2 linked regions of the Homo sapiens genome follow. The protein of the gene in region 2 interacts with the protein of the main gene of each other region in a pairwise test. Each region holds a gene or a part of one and is shown on either strand. Other genes may lie near its edges.

The links.
Region 1: the proteins of GPX8 (region 2) and SERP1 interact in binary tests that used the Homo sapiens proteins (3 or more experiments, as listed by UniProt).

Annotation. Positions count from the first base shown.
Region 1 is NC_000003.12:150,544,461-150,548,284, forward strand, and holds the start of SERP1 (stress-associated endoplasmic reticulum protein 1), read right to left. Parts: upstream 2,037-3,824; 5' UTR 1,676-2,036; coding exon 1,592-1,675; intron 1,319-1,591; coding exon 1,243-1,318; intron 39-1,242; coding exon 1-38. Other genes in the region: EIF2A (eukaryotic translation initiation factor 2A), read left to right, coding at 2,343-2,370. UniProt on the Homo sapiens protein: Interacts with target proteins during their translocation into the lumen of the endoplasmic reticulum. Protects unfolded target proteins against degradation during ER stress. May facilitate glycosylation of target proteins after termination of ER stress.
Region 2 is NC_000005.10:55,158,167-55,161,766, reverse strand, and holds the start of GPX8 (probable glutathione peroxidase 8), read right to left. Parts: upstream 1,597-3,600; 5' UTR 1,575-1,596; coding exon 1,371-1,574; intron 777-1,370; coding exon of another isoform or gene 774-776; coding exon 512-773; intron 1-511.

The sequences.
Region 1 (3,824 bases), on a different chromosome or scaffold from region 2:
CATGCCCATCCTGATACTTTGAATAATCTGGAAAATTGCTGTAAAAAGAAAGAGCAAATATTAAAATAAGCTTTGAATAAAATAGGTCTGGTGTCTAACAAATATTTATTAAGGTAGCTGAAGAATCCAAAGGTACTCTTACATTTGCAAATGGTACATAACTTCAGTATAATAAGAAGTGAAGACAGGCCTGTCTGAATAAATAAAACAATGAAATATCCCTGAGTTATTTTTTTATCTTAGCTTCGCTGAACTTTATGTCTAAGTATCCAAGAGAACTTGCAGATAAGTAATCATTTTACAAAGAACTTAAAGCACCAAAGCCAACAGGTTTTTCCAGCATAGAATTATTTTGGTTTATAAGCATCCTTTTAAGGCCTGGCCTGTAACACATGCATGTTTCCTCATTCTCACAAAGCTGAAATTCAATCATCTTCAGGTTATATAAACTGCTTGGCTCTCATCCATTTATCAGGAAAGCTTCCAATTGGTAAGTGAAGAAGAAAGGCAAAGTGAAACGTTAAACAGAAATCTCAGTAATTTTAGAATGTGGAAAACAAACATCTACTTCAATATTAACAGCTTGCATATTAAAATGATAAATGAAGAGAGGAAAGACCTTTTTTTTGTAATCTATTTGCAAAGGCAAGTGTCTGTTACTCTTAGGGGACAGCAGGCTACCCCGACACTTTTTTTTTAAACCATGTATCAAACGTTTCTTTTATTAACCTAAAAACATTTGACTCACACATTAAAATGCCAATCAGGTAATTTCCTCTATAGTGAATCAATTCTTTGCACAAGCTTTATTTTATAAAATATACTCAATTTTGACATTAAGACATTAGATTCTGGTATATGTTAAATCAAGTTCTAACATCTATAGTACATATTTATAATTTTCTTTGCAAAGACTGATAATGGAGTTACAAAACATTCTAAATTCTCATTTCGTTAGGTTTTGTCCGGTCTTAACATTTATTCCAACTGGATCATTACCAAGACCTGACCTCCTTTTTGATCTCCTGTGAGTACAAATTAAGCTGGGAGAAGTTTCTGGAGCACCACCCTCTGTGCATATGTGGAACAAGTAATTTGGTTCAGACGAAACAGAATTATGTGGAGTCCTCGGCAGGTGGGTTGAGAACTACGCAGGTAGGACTCACTACTGACCGGTCACCACGTCATCCCAAATCCTTTCAACCCAAGACTCTACCTGATGGGAGCCCCCAAGCCACTTACCAGAACCACAGACAACAAAAATGAAGAGAGCCAATAACCAGGGTCCTACAGACGCCTTCTCTTCGGGGGCATTTCTCTGCAAAAGCGAAAATCCACCATTTCAGATGCAGAGAAACCACTCGGACCCCAGGCTCCCACGCCTGCACGCCGGTCGCCGGCCCCCTCACCTCACAGGTCTCCCCTTCCGTTCCCGAGCCCCCACAGTCTGGCGGTTCGCAGACTCGGGCCCCTACCCCTCCACGGCACCAGCCCACGGTCGGCCGGATCCGGGAGAAAACGCGACGCGGCCCCAGGGACCCGGACTCAGCTCCGGCTGCGGAACGCAGAGGGGCGCCCGCTCTTTCCTTACCGAGGTCTTGGCGACGTTGCCGCGCTGGGTGATGTTCTTGCTGTGCTTCTCGTTGGCCATACGGATCCTTTGCTTGGCGACCATCTTCGCGGCGCCACCACCTGCCCCGGCCACCCCTCGGACTCGCTCACTCGCCTGCCTCCTCTGGAGCCGCTGCGAGGCTCGGCTCGTGGTGCCCGCGCCGCCGGAGCGCCGAGGTTCTCAGGCCAGACGCTAGCTACGGCCGCTGGGCCTGGGCGCCGCAAGCGCGAGGTCTGAGCACAAGCCGGGCGCCGGCCGCCGACTGACTGACCGAGCGGGGCAGGTGCGCAGGAGGAAGAGAACTGGCCGCCGGGTCGTTCTCGCGCCGCCGTCGCCGCCGCTTTGGCCGCCGCCGTGAGCGCGGAGTGAAAGAGGAAGGAAACGCAACGCAACAACGGGAATGTGCAGCCCGCCGCCTCGATCTACTTTGGGTTCGGCTGCCAACGTCAGCACTAGACGGACTCCGCCCCGCGGAAGTGCGCGCCCCTCCCGCTGGAGAAGGAGGGCGAAAGCAGGCGCACCCTCCCAAGCTCTGTCAAGCGTCGCCCTAGATTTGCGCGTGCGCGTTTGGGCGCCTTTTCCGCGTCACTCCGTAACCGGAAGTGAATTGGCCCCGAGGCTGATGGCTCCGGAAACACCAATTCGCTGTCTCCACGCATGAGGAGACGTGTAGGGGCCGGGTTCGGCCCTGGTGAACTCTCACCCGAGCGGTTTCTCTTTCCGGGACAACATGGCGCCGTCCACGCCGCTCTTGACAGGTGAGTTCTGAAGAAGCGAGGGACTCTCTTTCTTCAGACTAGTTTCTTATTTTTGTCTTTGCCTTTGAGAACTACCCGAGGAGCCGGGGAGTCTGATCTGCCTTTTCTTGTGGCTTGCGGAAAGGCCAGACTGTTGGCTTTCTTGATATAGCGTGGCAATCGGAAGTGAAGTCTCCGCCTCTGGGCTTTCGTATTCCCCCTCCCTTTCACCCATCCATCATTCTTGCCTGCGGATTCATCTTCTACAGAAATAGAAGAAGGGGGAGAAAAACAATGTGCTAGTTGAATTTGTGACACATGGGTCTGCAATACTGGTGTTACACGGGCCCTTGTGAAGTCATTTAGGTCTACAATAAGAACAAAGACAAACATGAGTTAGTCCTCTAGAATGATCACGCACTTTAAATACACCTGGACTTAAGTAATTCCAGATTCTGGCCTTCCTGCCTTAATGAGGTTTGTAGGACTGAATAGGGAGAGTGGAGCTGTAATGCAGGTTTCAAATGATGAAGGTGTGGTTGGGAGAGGGTGTAGCAGTGAGCATGATAGAGATATTCTAGCAACATTTGATTTTGAAATGGTTATGAGCATATTAGAAATAGAACATTAGAGGACTCTTGAAATTTTGAAGCTAAAGACTGTAGTGTTGGAGGAGATAATAAACTTAGATTGGAAAATGCTGGGGAAGTTGCTTTACTAGGGTGTGGCTAAGAGTCTGCATATGAGTATTACGTAAGGAAAAGAGAGTCGGGAAGGAAAAGAAGGTTTTGGTTAAGTTCTGATAACTATATAGAAGGAAAAAGTCATTAAGAGAAAGGTTGTCTGCATTTAAGGAGGGAGGCTATTCCCTCCCTTCCCCCCCGCGAAAGGAACCTTAAAACATTTTTGCACTTTTTGCCAGTCTACATTTCTATTTTTACATTTTAAAATCTTTGTTATTAAGCGCCATGCCCACTGATGCTCAGTCTGTCTTCTGCAGTTTAGTCATCATTTATCAAACGCCGAGTATAATCTTCTAGATAATATACCAGGCAAAGACTGTTTAAAAGGCAAAGTTACATAATAAATTTTTTTTTAGGTTTGTAAAGGTAGCTTGTTATTCACAATTTTTAATACTAAATGCTTATTTGAACTCTAATGAAAAAATTACATTCTAAAATCTGATAAATAACCCCTCCTTTAAAAATGCCTACAGTAGGTAGTTCCTCTCTGCTTACAGGGTAGATTCCATCCTATGTAGCATAGTTATGTAACCATTTATAATCTTTGAATTGCTCTTGAGACTCATTTATTTCCTTGCCATCCCATCTTATTTGGTGCTCCATCAATACTGAACTGCTTCTGAGTCCCTTTGAACAACCTGTTTCTTCAGTCTAGTACTATCCTATGCCTCTTGTTGATTTGGCAAACTCTTTTTCATCTGTTGAAATTAAAATTCATTTTAGATATCATTG
Region 2 (3,600 bases):
TGAAAAAACCAAGTTATATGTTTTTGGATTTTAGCAAAAATCTGGTAAGCTGACATATTCATCTTTGAGAATATTGTTTCAGATAAGAAAGACAACATAAAATTAGCCACAAACATATGTTAACTAATAATGCCCAGCACTATTCATGAGAGCTGTGTGGCTATAATGACGGGAAGGGACATTTCTCCAGATGCTAGTTACAAGAGAGGAGAATTAAGATATTTTGTGAAAATAGCCATGGGCACACTTTAAGTAAATTCTTCAGGAAGATGGTAATAAGGAATAAAATATATTGGAATAGAATTCTTTTACCATCTAAGAAGCTAAAACATTGATTTCAGGGGAGCATAACTCCTAGAAGTTACAAAGGATGAGATTCTGGCTCTTTGATGATAGTTTTATGAAGCTTTCCCGATACAACGTTTCAAATGAAATAGGAAAGTATTGTCCTGGTATAATTGTTTAAAAATGAAAAGCAATTTAAAACAGCATATGCAAGGCAGATATTTACCAACAAGAAATCTAAATGCAGGTTCTCCTTCAGATCCTAGAATCTTAATCTTGTGGAAGATGGGGAAAGTTACTCCGTAGTTTTTTCTTGCAAAAGATTCTACTTCCTTGCTTGGGCGGGGCTCCGATTCTCCAAACTGATTGCAGGGAAAAGCCAACACGCTGAAGTGGGATGGTCCAAACTCTTTGTGCAGTTCCTTCAGCCCTAAGTAATTTCTGTCTGTGAGTTGGCAGTCACTGGCCACGTTTACAACTAGTGAAACCTCCCGGAAAAAGAAAAAAATCCAACCGGAAAGTGAAGCAAAAGATTTTAAAAAATTCTGCAAGTAGTTAAAATCCTAAACAATTTGGGGGGGACTATAACCTCTGATTGATGTTTTTTTCATATTTTTGGACATACACAGTTCTATTGAAAACTGTAACCTAGATGCCTGGGTTAAGGCCCTGAAATAGTACTGCCATTAAAAAAGCATTAGATACTCATGAAAGTTTATTTTTAAATTAAAGATAAAACTATGATCCTTGATAAGTTCTTTTTAAAGTTATTAGATTATAGAACCAATACTTTTATTAATAAATGTCATCATGTTCACATTACTAACTATAAGTATTTTCCAAACAACTTTACATGTCAATTCAGCACAAAATTAAAGCATTTTAAAGAAAACGAGATAATCGGAATTTATTATTTAGAAGCAAACTATCAGAACTGTAATAACTAAAGTGATGTACTAATACCATTACTCTGAAGACTAAATTCCAACTTATGACCATGTAACAGCAAAAAATTGATTTTATTAAGAGGAATAAACAGAGACAAGGAAAAATGATAACAATAAAAATCAGATGATGCAACTTACTTTGCCTTTATACTTTTCCAGAGAAACAGTTCTTCCTTTTGCATCCTTCACTTCAAAGGCATAAAAGCTGTTGATTTTAGGTTTGAGGAATTTTAGTTGTAGAAGAAATAGCGTTACTGTGCATAGAACTATAGACAGCAAAACTGCAAATACCTTTGCTCTGGGCCCGGAACATTTTAGCGGGTAAGCTGCAAGAGGCTCCATGTTGGAGGATTCTAGAGGGAAGTCTCAGCAGCCTGGAATTCAAGGAGGAGCTGAAACTTGAAACCGGCTTAGTTTAACGGAAAACCAGGAAGGACAGGCTGACTGCTTTCACTGCTAAGGAACAGAAAGACCACTTCTCAGAGGGGAAATGAAGCGAAACTCCTGAATGAAGCAAGGAGCTCTACAGAATTTCAAAGTATTTGTGATGTAATTATAATTTTTGCTAGAAAAATCAGGACATTTTTGGTAGGTCTTTGACATTCTCCCTACAAAGAAAATATTTCGCCAGAAGATGGTGCTCTTGTAACTCGAAAGCTACGGAGGGCTCATTCCCCATGCTAAGCTGTGTATTTATTGAGCAACTGTTTGGATGCAGAGGATGGAGTACGATGCTCAGCAATAGTTTAGAATGTAGATTAAATGTGACCTACTCATATGGTGTATACCCTGAAGGACGTTACTATTACATGTATGGGTTAAACATGCTATATGAGTTCAGGAAATTTATAGTGGAAAGAGCAGGGAAATATCTGAAAAAGGCTATTTACCCTGATTCATCTAGCTAAGGCAATCAAATACCAAGTGAATACAGTCAAAATAAATATGTTAAAAACAGTGAAGGTGTTAAAAGAAACCCTTCTCTATCATAGAGCAAACTATAGTCCAGTGTTTTTCAAATTTCTACTCATGACCCCCAGTCAGCAGTGCACTTTACAACATAACTGGGTACAAACAACACACAACTGAGAAACAACACTTCTCCTTTGAACTGTGATGCACCCCCACCTGTTGCATTTTTAAACAACCCAGTTCTGACCTATCAAAATGATTTCATCATTCACCGATGCACTACAACCTGTAGATGGAAAAAACTGAGGCCGGGCATGGTGGCTCACGCCTGTAATCCCAGCACTTTGGGAGGCCTAGATGGGAGGATCACTTGAGCCCATGAGTTCAAGACCAACTTGGGCAAGAAAGCGATACCCCTGTCTCTAAAAAAGAATTTTAATTAGCTGGTTGTGGTGGTGCATGGCTGTGGTCCCAGTTATACAGGTGGCAAAGGTGGGAGGATCGCTTGATCCCAGGAGGTTGAGGCTGCAGTGAGTCGTGTTTGTAGACTGCAGCCTGGGTGACAGAGTGAGACTATCTTAAAATCAGAACAAAAGAAGAAGAGGGAAAAAAGCAAAAATTGAACTCGATAATAAAGTAGTAATTTAACAGTTAAATAAGGCAATTCTACCAAAAAAAATCCCTGAAAACAAACAAACCCTGCAAAACCCACCTCTACTTGGGCACGTCATCTAATTGCTTCGTTTTTTCTCTTTATTTCCCTCCCCTGGCTGTTGCCTGGCACAGGGGGCCTAACTTTGCTGTTGCTAACGGTCATGAATTTTAGGGGTAGGTATGGGGAGGCAATTGAGGGCTGTATATCCTAAAAGCCATTCACTTTCAATTCTGCTCTGTTTAAGACTCATGGCAAGATCTGGATGAAGGGGCATTATGCCATTTGATCATGATGTGTTTCCAGAAAGTGCAGGGAATGAGCTGAGATGTTTGTGGAGTGCCCTTCCTGTCACTGTTAGCTTGTGGAGCTTCAGAGAGGGTGCTCAGGGTGCTGCCTGCTCTTCTGGTTCCCGCTCTGTGGCATGTGTGTTTTCGGGTGGCTGAGCAAAGCCCATAGCCTACTGTGTAAAACTTGTGAGAGGAACCGCTCGACTCCTACTCTCATGGCTCAGTAAGAATGGATACAGTAGAAAAAGCAATGATTATGCAGAAAGTATTCCCTTTTAAACATAATTCCTAGTAAAGAACAAAAATGTATGTAAGATGTGTTGTATCACTTCCTGATAATTTTACTTTGGTGTTCTCTGGCTGAATTGTTTAAAAAGTCAAAGTCCCTGTGTTTATATGACATGAACACTGCTATGTTGCTTAAGCTCTCTGGCCTTGCTCTCTAAGTGGGATCTGGGACCTTCCACAGTACCATCACCTGGGCATTTGTTAGAAACACAGCATTTTGGGCCCC